Homo sapiens: one gene and its partners. The protein of the gene in region 4 purifies or fractionates together with the protein of the main gene of each other region. This does not show direct contact. Each region holds a gene or a part of one and is shown on either strand. Other genes may lie near its edges. The genes, in order: SLC18A2, HK1, CIB2, RDH11, PYGM, PCDHGB4 and TACR1.

Region 1 (3,500 bases), on a different chromosome or scaffold from region 4:
TATTTTTTTCCTTTCCTGCTTTCATGGAGACTTTGAAAAATGGTAGGAAGAGCCCTGAGCTGGGGGTGGAGGGGATCAGGACTTCCCCTGCCTCTGCCCCAAACCTCCCTGGGCCCAGATGGAAAACCAAAGGTTGAACAGGATGGTCTGCCAGACCCTTTCCTCGGGAACATTCAGTGAGTTGTGATCACGGAGAACCTTGCTTTCTGGGTCTGCCTCCCCCAGCTGCCCTGGCTGACTTCCCAGACCAGGGGACAAACATCTTCCCTGAGAGGGATTCAAAACCTTTTCCTTCCTCTTCCGATTTCCCGCCTGCTTCCAGGAGCCTGCAGCCTTGCCTGCGCTGGTGTACAAGGAGCGAAGTCTCTGTTTACACATTTTCCTGTGCAGTGGAAGCAGCCCAGCCCTGGGCCTGGATCTTGTTTCTCTCGGGCCTTTGCTTTCAGGGTGACCTTTATAGACTCCTGCCCATTTCTTAGGAAAAGGCACTTGGAGGAAGTTGCCAAGACAACTGAACTCTAACCGAACAGAACAATAGGGCAGCCACCCCAAAGCCTTATTGGAACAAAGTAGAGAGAGAAACACAAGAGTCAAATAGATGGTTCTAGTACAGGGAGAGGGCATGTGTCCCAGGGGTGGTGTCCCCACTTTCTCTCCCTGCAGTGGGCCCCCCCTTCGGGAGTGTGCTCTATGAGTTTGTGGGGAAGACGGCTCCGTTCCTGGTGCTGGCCGCCCTGGTACTCTTGGATGGAGGTGAGTGAGTCCACGTGGGCGCCATGCCATGACCTTGGCATCGTGCTGGCACGCGCTTGGGCCACACCTGCTTTCTGAAGAGGGGCTTGTCTTTTTTATTTTTATTTTTTAGCTATTCAGCTCTTTGTGCTCCAGCCGTCCCGGGTGCAGCCAGAGGTAAGCGGCTGGGAATGAGGGCCCTGGGGGAGGGGGCATGGTGCTGCTTCTGACCCGTGTTTTTTTCTTGACAGAGTCAGAAGGGGACACCCCTAACCACGCTGCTGAAGGACCCGTACATCCTCATTGCTGCAGGTGGGGCTCTGTGGGTCTTCTGAGTCAGGGGAATGCGAGGTGATGGCCGCGTGCTGGAGGCAGGGGTGGATGGCCAGGGCTGATTTTCGTTTTGCTGCTAGAAATGTTGGGCTATATAAAAAAACAGAAAAGGCAAAGAGGCTACAAGTCAAAGGAAATGGTTTTCTTCCGCCATTGCTTTCTGACACTCAGCCAAGGCCCTTTTTGTCTCATTTGGGGAAAATCAAAATGGCGTATGCTGGGCTCTGCAGAGCTGCCTGGGTCCTGGGGATGCCCGGCTGGGTTTGTTTGGAGCTAAGCTTGCCCACTGTGTTTGTATGGAAGGCCATCATTGTTTGGCCTTGAACTTTCCGGAAGGAGTCCTTGGCCTCAAGGCAAGGGTCCCCGGTGGGCAGTCTGACTCACCTTGGCATATATGAATAGAAACTGACAGCAGAGCCCCACAGGGACCAGAGGGGCTCCCTTCTTGCAGAGAGCATCCCTGCCGAGCAGCAGGGAGGCCGTTCAAACACCCTTTGGCTAAAGGACATGCTTTGGCCTAGAGGGGCTAAAAGAAAGCACTGGGGTTTTGTGACTCTTGGGAAGGATAATGGTCTGCATCTATCCAAGGGACTGTTCCCCAAGACTGTCCCAGTGGTAGGAGGCTGCCTGCTTTGCCAGGCCCCGGGCTGCCTAACCAGGGACCAGCCTTGTGTAGGTGTTGCTGGGCCTCAGTACCAAGGTAAGCAGACCCTTGGGGTCAGGCCAGGAGAAGGTCTGGCTGCGCGCTGATGTGTTGGTCTCTGGGGCAGCCTGCACTGTAGCACTAGACCCAGTTAGGGTTAGACTTGTCTAAGCACGGCTCCCTAACACAGGTAGGCTGGAGGGCGCCTGGGAGAACTGGGCACCAGTAGTTAAGTTCAGCCTTTGTCAACCCTCAGGCTGGTTTTGTTTAACCCTTCTGCTGCTGGATTTGATTAGGGCAGCAGGTATGTAACCCTGGCCAAGACCCTGTCTATCATGCTTGCTGGCCAAAGGGATATGGAGGTGGCATGGTGACTTATTCATGCAGTGACGTCTGCAAGATGCAGGGGGCATCCCAGAGCTCAGATGCTTCTGGAACCCTGGCATCTGAGGTGGGGACGAGGAGGTATGGTGAGGGACGGGGGCTCCAGAAATGTGACTTCCTGAACCTCGGGCACGTCTGAGCAGGGCTGTGCAGCCTGGGCCTGTCCTGTCTTGGGCTTCCCTGGAACCTCACTGCCTAGTACCTGCTCACAGGAGACACAAAGATGCTACCCAGCACTCCTGGACTGTCATCGACACTTCCAGACAGCCCGACTGGGGAAGGGAGTTGAGAGCCAAGTGGCTGTCCACTTGAGGGGAGTCCTGCCATTGATATGCTCTGCCTTTAAGTGTCATGTCGAATGAACAGACCTTTCTTCACCATATGTGCACCTTCATCACGATTGCACAATATTCTTTGAATTTGTTGTAGCAAATTAGAGGTTCCAAGAGGCACAACACGGGAAGTTCCCAGAACGATGGAGAACAGTTCCGTGGGTCTTTTTCCAGATAGTTCTATATTTACAAAGGGTTCTGGTTAAGAGATCATGAATATTTGCATAGGTGCCCTTATGTACCGCTGAACCCCGCCCCCTCCACCTAACGGCATGCCTGTACTGAATGCACCTGATCCTGCTTGGATTTTCTGGCATTTCTAGGTATCATTAGAAATGCCCACGTATATTGCACAGTAAAACACAGATGCGAGAGCCTCAGGCTGCCCCGAGACTGTGTGTGGTCTGGAAGTGGCCTGATTGCTGGGTGGCCCCAAGCAAGCTACTGCATTAATAAACTGGGCTTCCTTTCTTCATTGATAAAACCATAATTGGGTAGGTTAAACCAAAGGAACTCTAGGGCTGCCTCCAGTCCAAACTTTGTCTCTGGGATTCTAGTTGTTTAAAATGAGGACGACGACGACCATGATGATGATGATTATGATAAACAGCCTTTGCTGTCCCCTTGATATGCGATTTATCCTTTACTTAATGAAAGTAGAAGTTGCGGTTATCTGAGCTGTAGGCGCATGGAGTCTAACTGTGCCTGGAAATGAGAGAGGAGGCAGAAGCCACTACAAAGCCCTTTCCTCCCTTACAGGCTCCATCTGCTTTGCAAACATGGGCATCGCCATGCTGGAGCCAGCCCTGCCCATCTGGATGATGGAGACCATGTGTTCCCGAAAGTGGCAGCTGGGTAAGGACTGGGGTGGGCTCTTCTGATTCAAGAGCATTTGTCCCCAGGGCAGCCTTTGTCCCCAGGGCATCCCTGCTGAGTTGCCCTTATGGGGATGATAAAGTGATTGCTTCTGTTTGACTCTTAATGGGGTCATTGCTTAGGGCAGCCTTGGGGTCTGTTTGTTCTCTGGTTTATCCATCATCCCTGAGGGGTGCAGAACTCACACAGACACATCAGAT
Region 2 (3,500 bases), on a different chromosome or scaffold from region 4:
TCCTTGGCTCAAACCCTATCCCCTCAGCAACACAAAACTATTTCTCTCTCTTTCTTTTTTTGAGACAGGAGCTCATTCTGTCCCCCAGGCTGGAGTGTAGAGGCACATCAGGTCACTGCAACCTCTGCACCCCCATGCTCAAGTGATCCTCCCACCTCAGCCTCCCAAGTAACTGGGATTATAGGCACACCACCACACCCAGCTGTGTATGATTTTTTGTAGAGCCACATTGCCCAGGCTGGTCTCGAACTCCTGGGCTCAAGCAATCCACCTGCCTCAGCCTCCCAAAGTGCTGGGATTACAAGTGTGAGCTGCCATGCCAGGCCAGAACTATTTCAATTGAAGTCGACATTCTTTGAGCCATCAACAGAACTGGGTGTGAAGGTGCAGTACTGACATGGGTGCTTCACATGCACATTGTATTTATATGTACAGTGGGAAACAACTCTGAGGTCCTGTGCAAAACAATCATGTCACAGGCTAGCATTAAAACTTATTAAATAATGACTTAGAATTTCCCTTTAGCCTTTTAAAAAAAGTATAAGCCACGTTCTCACAGGACAACATGGCTTCTAAAACTAAGGTGAGATGGCATGAGGACTGGCTGGGGCCACTGACAGACCAGAAGGCTGTGTGGGGAACAAAGCACCTCCTTGCCAATGGGGACAACTTACAGCTCCTGCAGCTCCAGCTCTCAGAGGCCAAGCACAGACAAGCTGCCCATTTAAAAAAGTAAAGTCTGAGGGTTTGGGGGGTTTTAACAGGAGCTTCTGAAACAAGAATGTGGGTACCACACCTATGACCCAAGGTCCTCCTGATGAAATGCGGACGAGAGACAGACACATTCCACCCAGAGGAGCCGACAGCTACAGAAATCTCCATCTCGACTTTTGACAGGGCGAGGTAACGACAGAGTGCAGAAGCAATACCAGCAAGAATCGACTAAGGGCGATACTTCCCAAGGGGGCGACGCTGACCTTATGCCCAGAACTAAGCATGTTATTTATCTATTTATTTATTTTCAATTTTTCGTAAAGATGAGGTCTTACTATGTTGCCCAGGCTGTTCTCAAACTCCTTCCTCCTGCCTCGGCCTCTCAAAGTGCTAAGATTACAGGCATGAGCCACAGCCCCCGACCACCATTGTCTTGTCTGCCGAAAAACGTTTACCGGGTACAAAAGTCTGATCTCTGGAGAAGGTCCCTACCCACAATGGGTACAGAGTGCCAATGATAGCAAAGGGCAGACTCACTGTGGGTGCGTCTTGTAAAGAGATCCGTCGACACCAACCGTGGTCCGCAGCCTGGGTGTGCCCTTGTTATCACGCAGGCGGTTCAAGATGGCGCCCAGTGTGGCAGCCACCAAGTTGGCTGAGCGAAATGAGACAATGGTGCAAACGTGCTGGACTGAGACACAGTCATCATCGGACGGCTCCACTCCCAGGCGGGTCAGGATTTCTTTGGCATTGTGGAGGCCTTCCTTATTCCTGTGAAGTTAGAAGCCAATACTGATGCACTGAGGACCACATGAGGCAGTGCAAAGCACTGAGGCTCAAAGGTGCTGGAAAGGGACAGCCCCACTTACCATGTGTGGGATGGTATGGGATGGTATGGGATGAAGACTGTCAAATGCCTGAGAAGAGCCCAGGAAGGGTTCTCCTCCATAAGAAATGCCAGGTAGTGATAGGAAAAACTGTACCAGGTTGCACTATGCCAAGCCAGGACCATGAAGAGAAGTGGAGAGGCAAGACTATGTGGCCTCTGAACAGGTGGCGAAATGGCTGCCACCACCCAGGGCTCATGAGGCTCAGGAGAACCTCCCACTCGTGGGGTCTGTGAGTTGCCCCTGGATGCTTATACATCCTTCCTTGATGTCTCTCAGTGAAATTGTAATTTTCTGTACACGTGTTTTGTGTATCTTTTGTTGGATTCATTCTGAAGTACTTTATAGTTTTGTTATTGCTGCAAATGGTGCCTTTAAAATATATATGTATACATACAGGCATACATATACACTCACACATACACACAAACACATATACATACACTCTATCTTTGCAGCTTTCCTGTAAATCTAAAATTATTCTTAAAAATGTGTTTTAAAATATGTACATATTTTTATTATTGCTGATAGAAATACAGTTGACTTCTGTATCTTATCTCCAGACATCTTTTTTTGACAGATTTTTTTTAATATTTAAAAACAAAACCAACCTCGCCCCAAATAACCCCCAAACAAAAAACCAGATTAAATAAAATGTACAGTGAATATACCCAGCAAACATCTGTATGTGCAATCAAATACTGTGTCTGTTACTGCGGCACGAACCTCAAACAAACAATATACAAGTGTTCTGGGAGGGTCGGGGGAGTCCCAAGTTTTAACTCTGTGGGGTCTAGGAAGACAAGATGGGGAAGTGAGAGAATGGGGAAATCAATTTTGTTTATCTTAATTCTGTCCATATAAATATATTCATAAAGACCAAAAAAGGAAAGGAAGCTTGGGATGTTAAGGTAATACGAGAATAGGAGAGTGTGGGACTTTCCCAATTCTACCTGACCAAAAAATATGAGAGAAATTAATTTTATGATGGGAGAAGAGATTTTAAAAATGATAGAAGAGGATGGGGGCTGGGCACAGTGGCTCACACCTGTAATCCCAGCACTTTGGGAGGCCAAAGTGGGAGGGTCACCTGAGGTCAGGAGTTTGAGACCAGCCTGGCCAACAAGGTGAAACCCCATCCAGACATCTTTTTAACCTCTCCCGTCATTCTATTCATTTGTCTGTAGATATTTTGGGGGTATTCCATATAGACTTTTACCATTTGCAAATAATGACAGTTTCACTTCTTTTTTGATTCTCATACCTTTAATTTATCTCTCGTCTTTTCTTTAAAAACAAAAACAAAAACGAAAACCCACTGGCTAAGACTCCAGTACGATGCCAAATAGAAACTGGTGATACTGTCTCGCTCCTGATTTTAGAGAATGCCTCTAACATCTGCTCTTGTAGGATGTTTTTATAGTTTTTTTTTTTTTGAGATAGCCTTTATTATAATATACATGCTTTCTTGAGCTAGCTGGGTTTGTGTTTCTTGGTAACCAAAGAGTCAATACCAGAAACAGGCCAAGAGGAAGGCATGCATTTCCTGACTTGGCCAGTGATTTTCAAGACAATCCACGAGTCTCCCGCTCCCCTTCCTTCCCAGCCACTGACCAGGAGACTCATGAAAAGGGACAGCTGGAAACTCAGGAGAGTGATCATACAACAAACTCCAGCACATGGATTTGGCAGAAGAGTTGGTCCAGATAAACCCCTTTCCTCTTCCAGCAGCTGCCTTCTCTAACCTCAAAGAGAGCTGATGCAAATCTTCACAAGGAGACAGAGAATCCCGGGTTTCTTGTGTGATGCCAAGGGGCTACAGTTAGTTGCTGGCTGGCTCTGTCCTTCCTTCTAACTGTCCTGTCTCATCTGTTAACCGGTGTTTCTCAAACTTGCACG
Region 3 (3,340 bases), on a different chromosome or scaffold from region 4:
TGTGTGTCACTTCCCTTCCTATCCACATGTCCCCTTCTCTATAAGGGTGGACAGCTGGCTTGCTACCCCACTCCCAACAACCCCCAGGCCTGGGATGCAGAAAACAGGACTGATCATCTCCAGAGAGAACACCATACGTGCCCCTCCTCCCTGCCCTGACCCTGGGCAGAGCGGGCTCAGGTTGCATTTGTGGGAAATCTACTCTTAGTGACCACTTGGCTATGCAGCTTTTCCTGAAATATAGGCCTGTAAGAGTCCCTCCCTCCTTGGGGGTTTAAGGATTGAGACTGAAGCAACTGTCCCTGTGCCTGAGTGGTTAGCACTCCCAAATGTTAACCAGAGATACTGTCAGGGAATTCACGGAAGGTTCGGGGCATGAATGTGTTTTCCTCCCGATGGCACACGCACTGAAATCAAAGTTAGTGCCTAAAGCAGGAGGCACTGCCTAATGCCGAGAGGTGAGACACCAATGGTGGGATTTCAAGGATCAGAAGCAAAGGTACCCTCAAACATTTCCTAACATTAGCATACATGGAGAGCAAAGGGATGCAAAAGTGTTTTACTACCAGGAGTTCACAAATCTGTGGACAGCACACCAGTGAGGATTCCACGGTGTTGGGGAGGCAGGCAGGGTGGTACTCATGACCCAGAGGCAGAGACAGGAGCAAGAGCCCTTGGGCCCACTGCACCCACAGCTTCACATTGTGAAGGAGGCCGGGAGAAGGGGAACAGGCAGGGGTGGGAAGCAGCCCAACCTTGGGTTTTGGAAAAAGATTGCATAGCTCGTTAAAACCCTGACCTCTTTTTTTTTTTTCCGCTCTGTCCTGGGTGACCAGGGTGTCTGCCAGCACTTGGACACGTCAGACCCCACCACCTCCTGTTGGGTTATCTGCTTTTCCCTCTTTGGGGGGGTGGGGAGCATTTCTGGAGTAGGAAAGGACTGGGGCATGGGGCGGGGTGCGGAGGGCCTGGAGAGAGGCCATGGGTCCCGGGGCTGGACCACAGCGGGGCTGTGGGAAGGGTCCTAACCTTCACAGGCCCCCTTCCTGGTTAAGGTTTTTTTTTTGCTGAAAGGGCCACAGGATATATTTGTGGTGTAAACCCCAGAGGCTGCCACTGCTTTCCTGGGGAGCTTGGAGGCCACACCCATGTGACTGCAGGGCAGGATGGTGGACTTCTAGGCCCCTACAGCCTCGGCAGTGTCCTCAGATCCGGATGTGGAAAGTGCTAGAAAGAGAGAAAGGGCAAGAGAGGGTGAGAGGCCCTGGGTCGGGCAGGTAAAGGCTCCTCAGGGAAAAGCACAGCAGGCCCCAGCCCCATGCTGGACAGTGCCTCATTAGGGAACCCTGCATAGTGGATGCAGGTAATCAACACTGGGGGAAGACGGAGGAACAGCGGTGCCCAGGGAGTTCTGCCCCCACTTATCACTGAAGGGGCCCCCAGGTCTTCAACCTTCCCCCTGCAGGGGACAAAGGCCAGTCACACGTCTAGGGCAAGGGTGGCTTGAACGTGACCTCCTGCTTCCTGGCCGCACACCACTGCTCACAAATAGCGAGTGATAGGGGCCTCAGCCCCAACATCCCGGCCTGCCCTGCTCTGCCCTGCCCAAGCCCGGCCCCTGTAGTGGCAGCACCTGAGGAAGTCAGGGGCCTTGGCAATCATGTCCTCGAAGTCAGCAAAGCCCAGCTTGCCGTCACCGTCCAAGTCAGCCTCCTCAATGACCTTGTCGCACACAAGCACCACCTCCTCCTCATCCAGCTCTGACTTAGTGAGCCGGGCCAGCGTCAGCTCCAGGTCCTCCTTGCAGATGAAGTTGTCAGTGTTGAAGTCTGTAGGGCAGGGGTTGGACATGTTCAAGTCCAGGCTGCGTGCACCCAGGGACCCCTACACTATAGCTCTTCCTCCTAGCTGGCCCCACTACCTCCACCAGCTTCTGATGTCCCCAGAGCATCTCCATGCACACTCTTGGGATACTGGATCCCTGCCCCCAAGAGGGCTTACCCACCAGGCATCGCTTAAACACCCACATCCACCACCAACAACAACCCCACAATGACTAAACCACATCCTGAAGCAGGTCAAAAGTCCAAATCTGAGGTTTCCTGAGAACTTCAGGCTTAGGCCAGATAGCCCTTCCTGGCCTTAGCCCACAGTGGACCCAGTGTTCCCTTTAGACTTCTAGAGCTAAGGAAACTAAGGCCCAAAAAGGCCATGCGATTGAATCAAGGTGGGAGAGCCACTCGGAGATGGAGCAGGGATTCTGACTAGGGCCTATGGGACTCTAAGACCCATGTTTTCTAAACTGCACCCCGTTGCCTCAGTGGTGTGTGACCAGAAGACACGGTGGGTCAGGAGACTCAAAATCAAAAGACCCTTAGAGAGGGGCCTGTGCCTGGCCTTTGTGCACACAGAGCAGGGAACATGGTTTGATTCTACCCAGCAAAAGGCACTACCACTGCCCCAAAGCACAGCAAAATGGTTCAGAGGACCGAGCCATGCCTGGCCACATCAAAGTGAACTCTCTCTTCTTACATTTTGAGCCCAACTACCAGATCTGCGCATGTGCTGTTTCTTCTGCCTGGGGTCCCTTCCCAGCAAACTCCTGGTCATCCTTCAAATTTTGGCTCACACATCACCTCCCAGTGGCGGGGCTTTCTAGCGATAAGGGTCCTCTTCCCCGCAAATGAGCTTCTGTTGCCCATTGGCAAACTCTGACATTAATGGTAGTGACAAAGACCCATCATGTGAGCATTATATGCTCTTTCTCATTTAATTTTCAAAACAAAACTATGAGGCAGGCACAATTGAATCTCCACTATACACATGAAGAAACAGAGAGGTGGCCAGGCGCGGTGGTTCACGCCTGTAATCCCAGCACTTTGCGAGTCCGAGGTGGGTGGATCACGAGGCCAGGAGATTGAGACCATCCTGGCTAACACGGTGAAACCCCGTCTCTACTAAAAATACAAAAAAAAAAAAATTAGCCGGGCGTGGTGGTGGACGCCTGTAGTCCCAGCTACTCAGGAGGCTGAAGCAGGAGAATGGCGTGAACCCAGGAGGCGGAGCTTGCAGTGAGCTGAGATCGCACCACTGCACTCCAGCCTCGTTGACAGAGCGAGACTCTATCTCAAAAATAAAAAAAGAAACAGGGAGGTGAAAAGGAGAGGTACCTGCCTGAGGTCACATCCCGGTCATTGTTGGACCCTAGAGCCCAAGCTCTTGGGGTGACTCTGCCCTGTCTATCTCTGCAGAGGCCTGGGCACAACTCTAGGGTATGCGTCAGGGAGTATTCATCTCTGCCCATGGCATGGGACATAGCAAATCTCTGGAAAGATTTGCT
Region 4 (3,500 bases):
TCCAACTATAGGGCACCTGTGCCTGATTCCTTGAGCCTGCATTCTGCCTGCCTCAATTCCTAGCACAGTTCACCCTCGATTTCCCTTCTCTTTATTAGAAATCCAGAGTAGACAGTGCTAAGGACCTCTGTGTATTTGTGACTGGAAATTCCCCTTCTCAAGCATATATTTCCCTCTTATTTGATGCTTTGCAAGGGAGACCCTGCCCCTCCATATTCCCAGTACCTGTTTTAGTCTACTGCCTTTATCTAGTGCCAGTTCAGGTCCTTCCCTCATACTCAGTCTCACTGTGAGTAAAAAATCTTGACTTGCTTATGAAGCCTGAATTAATTATGACAATAAACTGTGAAGTAGTCCCATTTACATATGAAGAAGGAAGTCCTAAAAGTTAAGTAATGGCCAGGTGCGGTGGCTCACACCTAAAATCCCAGCACTCTGGGAGGCCAAGGTGGGTGGATCACCTGAGGTCACGAGTTCAAGACCACCCTGACCAACATGGTGAAATCCTGTCTCTACTAAAAATACAAAAATTAGCCAGGCCTGGTGGCACGCACCTGTAGTCCCAGCTACTCAGGAGGCTGAGGCAGGAGAATCACTTGAACCTGGGAAGTGGAGGTCGGCAGTGAGCCGAGATTGCACCATTGCACTCCAGCATGGGTGACAGAGCAAGATCCCGTCTCAAAAAAAAAAAAAGTTAAGTAACTTGCTATAGATCACACAGCTAGTAAGTAGTAAAGCCAGGCCTTCAGACTCAAAGTCAGAGTCTCACTGTCCCAGCCAGCCACCTCCAATATTCAGTTGTAGACTACTTACTAAAACTGTACCCAATTATAGCCACGGAAGCAGGTCCTCTCCAGGTGATGGGCTCTGGAAACAGTTTCCATTCCTGTGGCTTTTACCTGCCTCTCTCTGACTCATGTCTCCACATTCATTTCCTCTAGGCCCACCTTTTAGTCTCCGGGCCAGTTCCTGGGTGAAGAGGATGTTGGCTAGCTTGCTGTGACAGTAGGCCAGGCCTGCATTGTAGAATTTCTCGCCCTGCAGGTTATGGAAGTGGATCCTTCCCAGGTGATGTGCGAGGGAAGACACATTTACTATCCTTGATGGGGCTGATTCCTTTAGTTTCTCTAGCAGCAGATGGGTTAGGAGGAAGTGACCTGTTGAGAAATACTAGAATTAATGAAGTTCAGGGCCATGTAGGAATGACAGGAGTCGTGGTGAGCAGGCCTCACCTATGGGAGGCAGATAATTCAGAAATAAGGTCTTTCCCTCCAACTTTTCATTATCAACTAGAAAACAAGTTTAATGAAGGTTTAGGGAAATAACAACAGCCAAAGACATGAGGCATCCTTATATGAGCGAGATAGGTCTAGACTATGTGAATATGAAGTCCCAGCTCATTCCTACTTTGGTTAATCTCATTCTTAAGAGCTGGTTGGCTGGGTGCGGTGGCTCACGCCGGTAATCTCAGCACTTAAAGAGGCTGAGGCAGGAAGGTGCCTGAGGCCAGGAGTTTAAGTACAGCCTGGGCAACATAGCAAGACCCTGTCTTTACAAAAAAAGAGCAGATGACCTATACCTGATGCTGGCCACAAGGATCACTACTAAGAAAGCAACACAGTCCCCTAAACCAATTAGTCTGTTAAAAAATGCGCCAAGGCAAACCAAATCTAAATCACAGATTAAAAAGCGGGCAGAACCTGGAGCAGCCCTCAGGTATTCCTCAGCTATCAGGTAGGACCAAACTATTATGCACACATGGTCTATTATGGTCCTGAGGTTCAATCACACAACAAGAAGCCTCAATCTGACCCCTAAGTTTCCCAAAGAGAATTTTGGGTCTCTCTAGCTTTGTGATAAGGCCAGATTTCTTACCCAAGTGGTTGACTCCTATGTGCATCTCAAAGCCATCTGCTGTCTTCGAGTACGGACACATCATCACTCCTGCATTGTTGATCAAAACGTGGAGGTGCTTTTCCTCTGCAGGGACAAGACGATGGAGCGTGGAAGTGGCTAGCCAAGGCTATTACATCTTAGAAAGCTGCCTCACGCTCAGGCTTTGAAAATGAGGATGCAGGACTTCAATCTTCCCTCCATTTTTCCTTCATATTTATTTTCTATTGTTTTTCATTTTAAGACTTTAGTTGAATCCCACCTACTTTTACTATGGGGCAGAATTCCATTTTATACTACCAAATGACCTTCCAGATCCTTGTAGTTCAGGAGCTACTTACTCACTGCTTTTGGGAATTGTTGCATCCACCTCTCTCAATAAAAAGACTTCCCAAGCTGAATGGAAAGATTCCAAAGCAAGAGAAAAAAGAATGTTCTCTATGTACCTCTGCCCTGGGATTCAGGTCCCCAAAGAAATAAATACTGGCTTCACCTCTTTATTGCATCTTCCAATTCTCTCTCATGGTTCATTTCCTCATGTGGTTTGTAATTTATGACTATGAGTTCACACCAGTGAAAGCTTTTTCCTTGGAGGCCTAGATCCCTGGGCTATAAGGGGATATGCCTATAGAGTGCTCTTGGATTTGCTTTTGATGAGACACTACAGGTTTTTACGTTAATTTTCCATAGAGTATTACACACACATACAAAAATCAAACCCATAAATATCCTCATATCATTTGGTGGTACGAATTCAGACCCCACACATGATGCCAGCTCGGGTTCTAATTTTTTGCAGGTAAGTATCCATCTATGTCTAAAGAGATGGTAAACTTCTTTGTCATGTCTCTGAGCTGGTGGCCAGGATTTTTATTAGCTTCTATACTATGGACCAGATGGCCCTTTGTGAATCTCAACTTTGTGTAGAACCTCAAATACAGCTCCAGCTCTCAAAGGCCTGTGGCCTCATCTCCTATCCCTGTGTAAGTATTTAGACCCCAGACCCTAAAAAGCCTGTACTGAGTGCTGAGACTCCCATGAGATTTCTGGCTTCAGCTCTTACTCACTGCTATGACGTTTTGAATTCATTTTTTGTTTCTGCCTCTGGAAGATATCCCTTTGACATAAATTGTGTCCCAGTGACTATGAGTTCAGCTACAGAAGTTTTTGGCTATATTTTATCCACCACTTCTATGAGGAAGAGGGACCTTTTCCTTTTAGTTGAATCTGCCATGTTGACCTCAAGACCCACAACATAGTCTCTCTAGTTCTACACTTACCAGCTAAGAAGCCCTTAGCAAAAGCTCGAATAGACTTAGTATCAGACAGGTCCAGTTTCCGCACCAACACCTGCTGGTTCCCTGTCGTGGTCTGGATCTCTTTGGCCACCAATTCCCCCTTTTCCACATCCCGGCAAGCTAAATATACTCGAGCTCCTGTCAGCCAACATATGAAAGAGAAATGGTCAGCTCTGTTTTTGAGCTGGCATTATAAATCTAATGTTATTTCCAACATTTTTTTAAAAAACACACATTTTTACCCTTTCTTCACAACAGAGGTATCTGATTAGCAAATAGGTAAAGAAAAATAAATTAATAATATTCATT
Region 5 (4,077 bases), on a different chromosome or scaffold from region 4:
GGCGGTCTGCGAGTGTTCCCTGCCGTAACACTCCCCCGACTTTGGATCCAGTGTAGCCACCTGCTAAGAGACCCTTAAACGCCGCAGTAGGGCGGGGCTAAGGGCGGAGCCAAGAAGGCGCCGAGCATCCTCTGCTTCCTCCCCCTCCTGGGTCCTGCCCTCGACAGCGCGGATCCTCCGTGGTCCGGGAAGCCTCAGCCCAAGTCCCGGCTCCCAGCCCCGGTGGGCCCCACCCAGGCAGACGCCCCGCCCCCGGCCAGCGAGGCTGGCCGCTGACCTAGTATGGACACGGCACTGGGAAGAGAGGCGTGGAGGGTGACGCCAGGAAAGGGGCTGGAGAGGCCTAGGCCCCGCCCCCACGGGTCGCCCCCTCCACCTCCCATCACCGTCCCGCCGTGGGACGCACCTGCCGAGGGTGGAGGATAAGGGGGTGACTGCGCGGCTGCTGTTGAGCCCGCCAAGAGCTAAAAATATTTCCCAACAAAGAGGAGTAAGGAGGCTCCCAAGGAGAATGAATTTATTAGGGAGTGGGTGCAGTTGGTCAGACCCCATAAATAGGAGGGGACCGGGAGCCCGAGGACGGAAGGGGGCCCGTGTCCTTAGTCACGCTGGACACTGGGACATTGAGAGTGGGGAAAATGAGGGTTCCAGGAGGGGCTTAGAGATCTAACTCCAGTACCCCACCCTCTGCATGAGGTGCTGGGGCTGGCCCAAGAGAGTGTGACAGACTCAAGGGCTGGTTTGGGGTCTGGTCTGGAGGCTCAGATGGCCTCATCCGGGGCTGGCAGGCGCTGGCGGGAAGGCTCCACACCCCAGATCTCCCGGGCATACTGGGCAATGGTGCGGTCACTGGAGAACTTGCCAGAGGTGGCTATGTTCCGGATCACCATCCGCGTCCACTCTCTTGGGTTCTGCAGGTCAAAGGGAAGCTCTGGTTCACTCTGCTGGCAGGATCTCCACCTTCTGCCTCATCCCAACCAGGGCCACCAAAGCCCTGCCAACCCCTGGCCCAGGACCCCTCACCTTGTACAAGGCGCTGACTTTCTCCTGGCATTTAATGTAGTCTTCATAATCTGCGAAGACTTTAAACCTGGAGGGGAAAGGATAGGCATGTGCTATTCCTTTAGGGGGCTAGGATAAGTTCTATGAGGTCAAGGGCCAAGCCTGCCCTGTCCCAGTGGACAGCCGGGGACCTAGAGGGTCATGCTGCTTCCAAAGGCGCCTGGCTCCAACTACCAGGACCCGCGTCCGGCTTCCCCACCACACACCTGAGCCTCGATCTGCCCTGCGGCCCCACCTGAGTGATTCCCGGGCCAACCAGCTCACCGGTCATGGTGCATGAGCATATTGACAATGTCCTTGAACAGGTCGGGCTGTTTGGGGGAGAAGAAGCCACTGCTCAGCTGCTCAATGACCTGCCGAAGCTCAGGAATGCGATCGTAGTACTCCTGGGCATTGTACCTGCCAGGACAGAGCTGTGGTCAGCTCCCCGGAAAGGGGTTCCTGGCTCCTCTTCCAGAGAAAAGCTGAGAAGTCCCATGCCCCAGGGTCAAAACCCAGGTCCAGCCTGCTGCTCCCCAGGGCTGCCACATCGCCCCTGCAGGGCCTCCCTGCAACTCCCCTTCTCTGCTCAGCTTTTCATCCCTCCTTTGTGAATGAAGAAACTGAGGCCCGGAGGATACAGAAAGCTAAGTGTTAGAGCCAAGGCCCCCAAACAAGCTCTTTTCTCCCACACGCCACTGCTGTCTCTTAACCAGTTTGTTTGCTCCAAAATGGCTTTTCTCCTCCAGTAGCCCAAGTCCATATCCGGCCTTGCCCTGGGGCAGCAAGAGCAGCTAACAGGTACAACCCTTCAACTGGGCCAGGCATGGTGGCTCACGCCTGTAATCCCAGCACTTTGGGAGGCCGAGGTGGGCGGATCATCTGAGGAGGTCAGGAGTTCAAGACCAACCTGGCCAACATGGTGAAACCCAGTCTCTACAAAAATACAAAAAGTAGCCGGGCATGGTGTCGTGTGCCTGTAATCCCAGCTCCTCGGGAGGCTGAGGTGGAAGAATCACTTGAACCCGGGAGGCGGAGGTTGCAGTGAACCGAGATCATGCCATTGCACTCCAGCCTGGGCAACAGAGCAAGACTCCATCTCAAAAAAAAAAAAAAAGATAACCCTTCAGCTGACCCTCAGCGCCCCCACCACGGCTCAAAGCGCTCCACAGGCCAGTCTCAAAACCTAACCGTTCCAACCAGAAACCAGCGCTCCCCACAAAATCTCTAATCCCTCGTGCGACTCTCTAGTCCCTTGTGCGACTCTCAGGCAACTCTCCCTGCATTATGGTGTCAGCCCCCACAGTGGTCCCCCACCTGCCCCCTCCAGCACTGTCTCCATCCTGCAGCCAGAGGGTTCTTCCAGGCCTCGTTCTGAGCATGCGGGACCATGCTCACAACATCTCACAGCTCCCTCCTGCCCATGGGACAGCCAGCTTTCTAGTGAAGCCTCACAGGAGACACTTCTTTCAGTGTTTAATGCCAACTCTGGGAAGCTGTTGTGGGAGTGTAAACTGGGAGAAACTTTCTGGAAAGCAGTTTGGCAATCTGTATCAAGAGCCTTAAGAACTCATACTTTTTAACTCAGAAATATCACCCTTCTGATAATTATCTTAAGGAAATCATCAGATGTGGACGTAGACATTAAAAGGTTGCTCATCACAGTAATATTTAACAAACCGGAAATTAACCTTAGTGTCCAGCCACATGGAATTGATTAAATAAGTTGTGACATGCTCATAGGATGGAATGTTATACAAACATTTAAAATATTTTTGAAGACTAATAACATGGAAAATCTCTCTCCAATGCTAAGATATCAGGATTCAAGCAGGGCGCGGTGGCTCACGCCTGTAAACCCAGCACTTTGGGAGGCCGAGGCGGGTGGATTACTTGAGGTCAGGAGTTCAAGACCAGCCTGGCCAACATGATGAAACCCCATCTCTACAAAAATACAAAAATTACCTGGGCGTGATGGTGGGTGCCTGTAATCCCAGCTACTCGGGAGGCTGAGGTGAGAGAATCACTTGAACCTGGGAGGCGGAGGTTGCAGTGAGCCAAAATCATGCCATTGCACTCCAGCCTAGGTGACAGAGTGACTCTGTCTCAAAAACATAAAAATAAATAGGCCAGGCGCAGTGGCTCACCCCTGTAAGCCCAGCACTTGGGAGGCCGAGGAGGGTGGATCACCTGAGGTCAGGAGATAGAGACCATCCTGGCCAAAATGATGAAACCCCGTCTCTACTAAAAATACAAAAATTAGCTGGGCGTGGTGGTGGGTATCTGTAATCCCAGCTACTCAGGAGGCTGAGGCAGGAGAATCGCTTGTACCCGGGCGGTGGAGGTTGCGGTGAGCCAAGATCGTGCCATTGCACTGCGGCCTGGGTGACAGAGCAAGACTCCATCTCAAAACAAAACAAAAGGCCGGGCGCAGTGGCTCACGCCTGTAATCCCAGCACTTTGGGAGGCCGAGGCAGGCAGATCACGAGGTCAGCAGATCGAGACCATCCTGGCTAACATGGTGAAACCCCGTCTCTACTAAAAATGCAAAAAATTAGCCAGGCGTGGCAGCAGGTGCCTGTAGTCCCAGCTACTCGGGAGGTAGAGGCAGGAGAATGGTGTGAACCCAGGAGGCGGAGCTTGCAGTGAGCCAAGATCGCGCCACTGCACTCCAGCCTGGGTGACAGAGCGAGACTCCGTCTCAAAAAAAAAAATACATTAAAATAAAATAAAATAAAATTTTTTAATGTAATGCCAGGATAATGTCTTCTCTGAAGAACTGTTTCTGACCATAGGCCCCTTGTAACTACTGTGCCCATATTTCCCTTTTGCCCATGGCTTTCAGGGAGCAAGGATTTTTTTTTTTTTTTTTGAGGCAGAGTCTCACTCTGTTACCCAGGCTGGAGCGCAGTGGCGCGATCTCGGCTCACTGCAAGCTCCGCCTCCTGGATTCACACCATTCTCCTGCCTCAGCCTCCCGATCAGCTGGGACTACAGGCGCCTGCCAACACGCCCGGCTAATTTTTTGTATTTTTA
Region 6 (3,500 bases), on a different chromosome or scaffold from region 4:
ATTCAACACTTTTCTTAACTAATTTAACTGGTATGGTCTCCATAGTAGTCCACTGTTTTGTTTCCTGTGTTAACTTCCCTTTTGTTTCAAAAGCTCTTAGAATAAGGAGTCAACTGGATTTTTATGTCCATGGACCCCTTGTGATTATATGCAGTGTACGCTGTGTGTGCGTGTGTGTGTGTGTGTGTGTGAGAGAGATCCTTTTACTTAGAAAAAGGTCTACTATGCTCATTAGAAGATCAAAAGCAGATTCTCCTTACTTGTAACATAGGAGTTTCAGGATTAATCTGTATTCAAGCTCATTCTATATCCTTCATCAAAGAAAAGACAATGTTTTGTGTCTGTTGTCCCTCTCACACACAGCCCTAATATATAATGTGTAACTGCCTTATCTGCAGCCCTAAACTAATATAGCTAGAGGTCTTCTAATCATTCTCCTACCTCTAGGAAAGAAATATAGTCTTGAAAACTGCCAATCTGGTGTGCATACAAAATATATACAAAATACCAAGGAACATTATATGAGCCTTTTGCTAGGTATATCTAAGCAACTGCTTCAGTTAATGGCCACTTTACAAATTGCTGAAAGAAGGAAACGTCTTTCGATTCTTTTTTTTTTCTTTTTTTTTTTTTGAGACAGAGTCTCTGTCTGTTACTCAGGCTGTAGTGCAGTGGCACAATGATAGCTCCCTCCAGCCTCAAACTCCTGGGCTCAAGCATTCCTTCTGCATCAGCCTCCTGACTAGCTGGAACTCAGGCTCATGCCACCAGACCTGGCTAATTTTTCTGTTTTCAGTAGAGAAAATATTTTCTTTCACTAATTTAACTGGTATGGTTTCCATTGTCTACCCAGTTTTCCATATGCATAAGAAAATATATTCACAGGAAAATATAAAGTTTTCAGATTTCATGAGTGGTTTTAAGAAAGTTTTAGTCAGTGAAAAAACTATCATACCAGTCTTCAAAGGAAGGGTGAAATAAGTTCATCTGCTACGTTGCCCAGGCTGGTCTTGAAGGGAAACAGACTTTTTTGTAGTCATACTTATCCTTTGGCTTCTTAGTAAGTATTATATAGTCATTACTTTTTGCAGTTTTTTAGATCAAAGTGTTAATGTAGGTAAAGTTAATTTTAGAATATATGTAAAAGTCAAGTCTGCTTTAAATTTAATCATCTCTTTGGTGAAAGGGATGGGATGGAGCTTTGCTTTTTATCATATATTCATCTGTACCTTTCAAGTATTCAAATAGAAAAATATAAACAATGTAAATAAAATAGCAAAACAATGTAATATCTCATAAAACTGCAATGGTAAAAGCATTTATCCTATTGAAATTCCACAATTTTTATTTGAAAATATTATCGACATGTAATTCAAGTGGCATTTAGAAGAATAATTTAAAAGCAACAACTCTATAGAAAGCTTGTAAAATGATTAAGTAGTTTAAACCAAATAAAACAATTTCTGAGTCAGTCATCTCCAGTAGGTCTATTTTAGTCTCAAGATAAATTCATTTCTGGTGACAACTGAAGTTCTTAGTTATTTGTTAGTATATATTGGAGACATTTACAATAAAGCTTAGAGCACAATGGGAAATGAAAGTATCATGTTTTTTTTAAGACCAAATGTATTGCAGAAATGTGAGTAATTTAATCCGATGCTACAATCTGATCATTCTGATCTAATCTGATCATTTAATAACACTAAATAAAACCTTCATCTCACATTCTTTGGCTGTTTCTTTTAAAATATGGGTTTACGGATAAATCAAATAAATTCAAAACAAAGTAATAAGCAAATGATTTTTTTTTCTCAGTAATCTAGTAGAGTATTACATTTAGAAGTAATCTGTATCTCAGTGCAGTAACTATTTAGGACTGTAAGCGCCGCTGTTCACCTACTGGAAGACAAATGCAACCGAAAACACTCAGATCTCACACCTCACGAAGACCCGCAGATGCCACAAACTAACTGCTGGACTGCAGCGAAACCCGACCCCTGTTTGGAGGCACTCCAGGTTTCCGGAGGATTGTCATCTCCATAGCTGCGGCAAGAAACTAAATAAGACCCATTTATGCACAGTGAAGATTCTGAGAGGATTCTGCAGCAAAACAACAATGGCCGCTCCACAGAGTCGCCCCAGACGCGGCGAGCTGATCCTGCTGTGCGCGCTGCTGGGAACGCTGTGGGAAATCGGGAGGGGACAGATTCGCTACTCTGTGCCAGAAGAGACGGACAAAGGCTCCTTCGTGGGTAATATCTCCAAGGACCTGGGGCTGGACCCCCGGAAGCTGGCGAAGCACGGAGTCCGTATCGTCTCCAGAGGTAGGACGCAGCTCTTTGCTCTGAACCCGCGCAGCGGCAGCTTGATCACCGCGGGCAGGATAGATCGGGAGGAGCTCTGCGCTCAGAGCCCGCGGTGTCTGATAAATATTAACACCCTGGTTGAGGATAAAGGAAAACTCTTTGGGGTAGAAATAGAAATAATTGATATTAACGATAATAACCCAAAATTCCAGGTCGAAGATCTAGAAGTAAAAATTAACGAAATCGCGGTTCCTGGAGCACGTTATCCACTCCCAGAAGCTGTTGACCCGGATGTGGGCGTGAACTCCCTCCAGAGCTACCAGCTCAGCCCCAATCACCACTTCTCCCTGGACGTGCAGACTGGAGACAATGGAGCCATAAACCCAGAGCTGGTGCTGGAGCGCGCCCTGGACAGGGAGGAAGAGGCTGCTCACCACCTGGTCCTCACGGCCTCGGATGGCGGCAAGCCGCCTCGCTCTAGCACAGTGCGCATCCACGTGACAGTGTTGGATACAAATGACAATGCCCCGGTTTTTCCTCACCCGATTTACCGAGTGAAAGTCCTTGAGAACATGCCCCCAGGCACGCGGCTGCTTACTGTAACAGCCAGCGACCCGGATGAGGGAATCAACGGAAAAGTGGCATACAAATTCCGGAAAATTAATGAAAAACAAACTCCGTTATTCCAGCTTAATGAAAATACTGGGGAAATATCAATAGCAAAAAGTCTAGATTATGAAGAATGTTCATTTTATGAAATGGAAATACAAGCCGAAGATGTGGGGGCACTTCTGGGGAGGACCAAATTGCTCATTTCGGTGGAAGATGTAAATGACAATAGACCAGAAGTGATCATTACGTCTTTGTTTAGCCCAGTGTTAGAAAATTCTCTTCCCGGGACAGTAATTGCCTTCTTGAGTGTGCATGACCAAGACTCTGGAAAGAATGGTCAAGTTGTCTGTTACACACGTGATAATTTACCTTTTAAATTAGAAAAGTCAATAGGTAATTATTATAGATTAGTGACAAGGAAATATTTGGACCGAGAAAATGTCTCTATCTACAATATCACAGTGATGGCCTCAGATCTAGGAACACCACCTCTGTCCACTGAAACTCAAATCGCTCTGCACGTGGCAGACATTAACGACAACCCTCCTACTTTCCCTCATGCCTCCTACTCAGCGTATATCC
Region 7 (3,500 bases), on a different chromosome or scaffold from region 4:
CAACACATGTGGGCCTGTTCAACCATTATCGTTGCCGTCTTTCCAATTCAGTGAAGGGCTGGACCCAGATGGTCATGGCCAGAACCTCTTTGAGTGTTTGTATTAAAACCATAGGATTGCTTGTTGGATTATTTCCCAAATGCAGCGGTGAAGATGCCTTATCTCACCTCCAGCACTGCATAGTTCCTACCCTCACTGGCAGCTGTGCATTCTCAGGCTTCACAGGAACTTGAGGAGGATGCTCAGGGGAGAATGTGGTAATTACATTGCCCTCTTTTAATATTACCTCAAATGCAAGATTTTAATTTGTTTCTCATTCAGGATAAATGCTCAGTCTTAAATAAACAAATCCTAACACCACTCCCCATGCTCGAATTGGCGATACACCATTCAGAATCTAATGTGACTGGGCTTACGGGGGATTGCACCAGCGTATTGGCACTGTAACTCCAAATGGGTGGCAGAAAGCCATATTTTATCCTTATTGCAAAAATTGCAATTTGGGAACGCACTTCAGTTAACTCTCTACCGTTCTTTAGTGTAGGAGCCATTTTAGTGGCAGATGAAAGTATTACCCACATAAAGCCAGAGAGAATAAAAAAGACTGGCTTTAAAAAATGTATATATGTTCATTTGTTCAAAACAGAGGTGTTTATAAATCTCCCTCCCTCCTTCCTTCCCTCCTTTCCTCTCTTTCCTCCTTTCTTCTATCCCTCTCTTGCAATCCTCATTTCTGGGGCTCGTTTAACATGTTTTTTTCTTATTCACCCAAAAGCTAGTACCATTTGGATAACCTGTACACAGATGGATGAATATTTTCTTTCCTACTCCCCACTTCTAGCTAGGATTCATTAACATACATTTATATATTTATCTGGAACCAGCCTGAGCAATTCTTGCTTATTTGGTTATAAGATATTACGGAGCAAGTGCTGCAAACCCAAGGAAAATACATTCAATAAATATTTATTGACTGCACCGTGCTCGTGGGACTCTAAGGCAGTCAATGAAACGTCTTTCTGGTGTAAGCATTAATCATTAGGCTGCCAGCGACAGGGATCTGGAGGCGTGTGGGATATGGATTATGTTCTTTACTTCAGGTGGTTCCAGTCCCACTGAGGGCCATCAGGACTGATTTGAATTGTATGTGTCCTCCCAGCTGAAAAACCTGAGATGTAGCCTTCCTCTTGCATGATGATGCTTTATAAAAAGAACTCTCTGCTGCACATTTGTTTTTTCTTGTAGGCAGAGTGAAAACAATCTTATTGTGAAAAGGAATTTCAATCCTCTGACAAGCGGCAGTATCTTCATAACTTCCTGCTATACCAGTCCCAAATCACTCAGCAGAGAGAACGTCTTTCCTCTACGATGAGATTTGTCCAGTGGGGCCCTTCTTCCACAGTCTTTCTCATCCAATTCCAGTTTCTGCCCTCACTTCTCCCACTCACTCCTGGGGTGTTACAAGTTTCCTTTAAGGGACCACATCTTCCTGAGTTCAGATAACCAGGGTGGTAATAGCTGAGAGTGTGGCTGCTATAGTCTAGCTCAAGGGTTGGCAATTTTTTTCTGGGAAAGACAGATATTACATATTTTGAGTTTTGTGGTCCATATAGTTTCAGTTGTAATTATCAAACTCTATCTTTGTAGTGTGAAAACAGCCACAGACAGCAAAGAAACTATTGGGCATGGCTGTATGATAATAACATTTTATTTACAAAAACAGGAGGTAGGCTGCATTTGGTCCCTGGCCCATAGCTTGCTGTCCCCTGGTCTAGTTTACAGGAAGCGAAGAGCAGGAGGAATTAGAACCATAGGAGAAGATGGTGTGATATTCAGAAACACTCTTTACCTTTGGCAGATGGGAACTCATTGGGTAGATAACTCCTGTGTCCCACAAGCAGTGAGTAAGGTGGTCTACGGCCAGTCATGACCAAGAATCAGATAAGACCCTGGTTCTAATGTGAGCACAGTGGTCAATCTGGGATGTTTTTCCTCCTCGATCCCTTCCTGGCTGTTCCTGTTTATTTTCACAACTTGGCCCAGTCATCATGTCCTTGTGGCTGTGTTTGTTGCCTGCCTTTACTGCTGTGAAGATCTCTAAACCTTGTGCTGACCACGCTTCACTTTATTTTCTATTTTCTTTTCTTTTCTTTTTTTTCTATTCTTTCTTTTTTTTGTTTTGAGATGGAGTCTCGCTCTGTTGCCCAGACTGGAGTGCAGTGGTATGATCTCGGCTCACTGCAGCCTCTGCCTCCCGGGTTCCAGCAATTCTCATGCCTCAGTGTCCCAAGTAGCTGGGATTACAGGTGCCTGCCACCATGCCTAGCTAATTTTTTTGCATTTTTAGTAGAGAAGGGGTTTCACCATGTTTGCTAGGCTGGTCTTGAACTCCTAACTTAAGTGATTCACTGTCCTCGGCCTCCCAAAGTGCTGGGATTACAGGCATGAGCCACCGCGCCGGGCCTTTATTTTTCTAATTGCATATCCTTCTTTTCTCTTTTCACCCTCCACAGGTCCTTGGCCTGCCCAGGTGCTGAGGATGTAGTAAATACTCATTGAAAGTTTGGTTGCATAAATGATATCTTGGCACATAGCAGTGGCTTCATGAATGCTTGTTGAGTGAAAATAAGTGTAAAAGGAGAAAAACATACATGTTATACCTTTATTCCTCCCAGTCTCAACACATGTAAGACTGTTATGTGAGAATAATTATTGCTCAAAGTGTTTTCTGTCATATAGACACCCAGGATCATCCTGAAGGAGTGACCTCACTGGAATTGGCTCTTCAGAATTTTTTATCTCTTGACATTAAGCCCCTAAATAGAGCCTCAATACCTACTTGTTGACTAACTTTTGTGTTGACTATACGTTGGGAACTGTGCAGGATTCAGTCTTTCTTAGTTTTTTATAGCTTTGATTTTAGGTTCAGGGGTACATGTGCCAGGTTTGTTCTATAGATAAACTCATGTTACAGGGGTTTGTTGCACAGATTATTTCATGACCCATATTAAGCTAGTACCCAATAGTTATTTTTTCTGCTTCTCTTCCTCCTCTCACTCTCCACCCTGAAGTAGACCCCAGTGTCTGTTTCCTTCTTTGTGTTCATCAGTTCTCATCATTTAGTTCCCACTTATAAGTGGGAACATGTGGTATTTGATTTTCTGTTCCTGTGTTAGTTTGCTAAGGATAATAGCCTCCAACTCCATTCATGTTCCCGTAAAATACACGATTTCATTCTTTTTTATGGAAGAATTATATATATAGTATTCCATGGTGTATATGTACCACATTTAAAAATCCCATCTGTCATTGATGGGCATTTAGGCTGATTCCATGTCTTTGCTATTGTGAATAGTAGTACTGCAGTGAACATATGCATGCATGTATCCTTATAATAAAATGATTTATATTCCTCTGGGTATATACCCAGTAATGGGATTGCTGGGTCAAATGGTAGTTCTGATTTTAGCTCTTCAAGGAATAAAGACTTGAATGTGAAA

Evidence for each region.
Region 1: the proteins of RDH11 (region 4) and SLC18A2 purify together in Homo sapiens (co-immunoprecipitation; one large-scale study listed by IntAct). This does not show direct contact.
Region 2: the proteins of RDH11 (region 4) and HK1 purify together in Homo sapiens (co-immunoprecipitation; one large-scale study listed by IntAct). This does not show direct contact.
Region 3: the proteins of RDH11 (region 4) and CIB2 purify together in Homo sapiens (co-immunoprecipitation; one large-scale study listed by IntAct). This does not show direct contact.
Region 5: the proteins of RDH11 (region 4) and PYGM purify together in Homo sapiens (affinity purification with mass spectrometry; one large-scale study listed by BioGRID and IntAct). This does not show direct contact.
Region 6: the proteins of RDH11 (region 4) and PCDHGB4 purify together in Homo sapiens (co-immunoprecipitation; one large-scale study listed by IntAct). This does not show direct contact.
Region 7: the proteins of RDH11 (region 4) and TACR1 purify together in Homo sapiens (co-immunoprecipitation; one large-scale study listed by IntAct). This does not show direct contact.

What each region holds. Positions count from the first base shown.
Region 1 is NC_000010.11:117,254,614-117,258,113, forward strand, and holds part of SLC18A2 (synaptic vesicular amine transporter), read left to right. Parts: intron 1-663; coding exon 664-753; intron 754-865; coding exon 866-909; intron 910-983; coding exon 984-1,044; intron 1,045-3,183; coding exon 3,184-3,279; intron 3,280-3,500. UniProt on the Homo sapiens protein: Electrogenic antiporter that exchanges one cationic monoamine with two intravesicular protons across the membrane of secretory and synaptic vesicles.
Region 2 is NC_000010.11:69,377,847-69,381,346, reverse strand, and holds part of HK1 (hexokinase-1), read right to left. Parts: intron 1,486-3,500; coding exon 1,252-1,485; intron 1-1,251. UniProt on the Homo sapiens protein: Catalyzes the phosphorylation of various hexoses, such as D-glucose, D-glucosamine, D-fructose, D-mannose and 2-deoxy-D-glucose, to hexose 6-phosphate (D-glucose 6-phosphate, D-glucosamine 6-phosphate, D-fructose 6-phosphate, D-mannose 6-phosphate and 2-deoxy-D-glucose 6-phosphate, respectively).
Region 3 is NC_000015.10:78,104,106-78,107,445, forward strand, and holds the end of CIB2 (calcium and integrin-binding family member 2), read right to left. Parts: intron 1,830-3,340; coding exon 1,634-1,829; coding exon of another isoform or gene 1,543-1,633; exon of another isoform or gene 1,234-1,542; intron 1,228-1,233; coding exon 1,206-1,227; 3' UTR 501-1,205; downstream 1-500. UniProt on the Homo sapiens protein: Calcium- and integrin-binding protein that plays a role in intracellular calcium homeostasis. Acts as an auxiliary subunit of the sensory mechanoelectrical transduction (MET) channel in hair cells.
Region 4 is NC_000014.9:67,689,265-67,692,764, forward strand, and holds part of RDH11 (retinol dehydrogenase 11), read right to left. Parts: intron 3,330-3,500; coding exon 3,174-3,329; intron 1,981-3,173; coding exon 1,876-1,980; intron 1,158-1,875; coding exon 948-1,157; intron 1-947. UniProt on the Homo sapiens protein: Retinol dehydrogenase with a clear preference for NADP. Displays high activity towards 9-cis, 11-cis and all-trans-retinol, and to a lesser extent on 13-cis-retinol.
Region 5 is NC_000011.10:64,745,898-64,749,974, forward strand, and holds the end of PYGM (glycogen phosphorylase, muscle form), read right to left. Parts: intron 1,462-4,077; coding exon 1,327-1,461; intron 1,091-1,326; coding exon 1,024-1,090; intron 912-1,023; coding exon 762-911; 3' UTR 501-761; downstream 1-500. UniProt on the Homo sapiens protein: Allosteric enzyme that catalyzes the rate-limiting step in glycogen catabolism, the phosphorolytic cleavage of glycogen to produce glucose-1-phosphate, and plays a central role in maintaining cellular and organismal glucose homeostasis.
Region 6 is NC_000005.10:141,390,698-141,394,197, forward strand, and holds part of PCDHGB4 (protocadherin gamma-B4 isoform 1 precursor), read left to right. Parts: intron 1-1,935; exon of another isoform or gene 1,936-2,116; coding exon of another isoform or gene 2,117-3,500. Other genes in the region: PCDHGA8 (protocadherin gamma-A8 isoform 1 precursor), read left to right, coding at 2,117-3,500. UniProt on the Homo sapiens protein: Potential calcium-dependent cell-adhesion protein. May be involved in the establishment and maintenance of specific neuronal connections in the brain.
Region 7 is NC_000002.12:75,123,021-75,126,520, forward strand, and holds part of TACR1 (substance-P receptor), read right to left. Parts: intron 1-3,500. UniProt on the Homo sapiens protein: This is a receptor for the tachykinin neuropeptide substance P. It is probably associated with G proteins that activate a phosphatidylinositol-calcium second messenger system.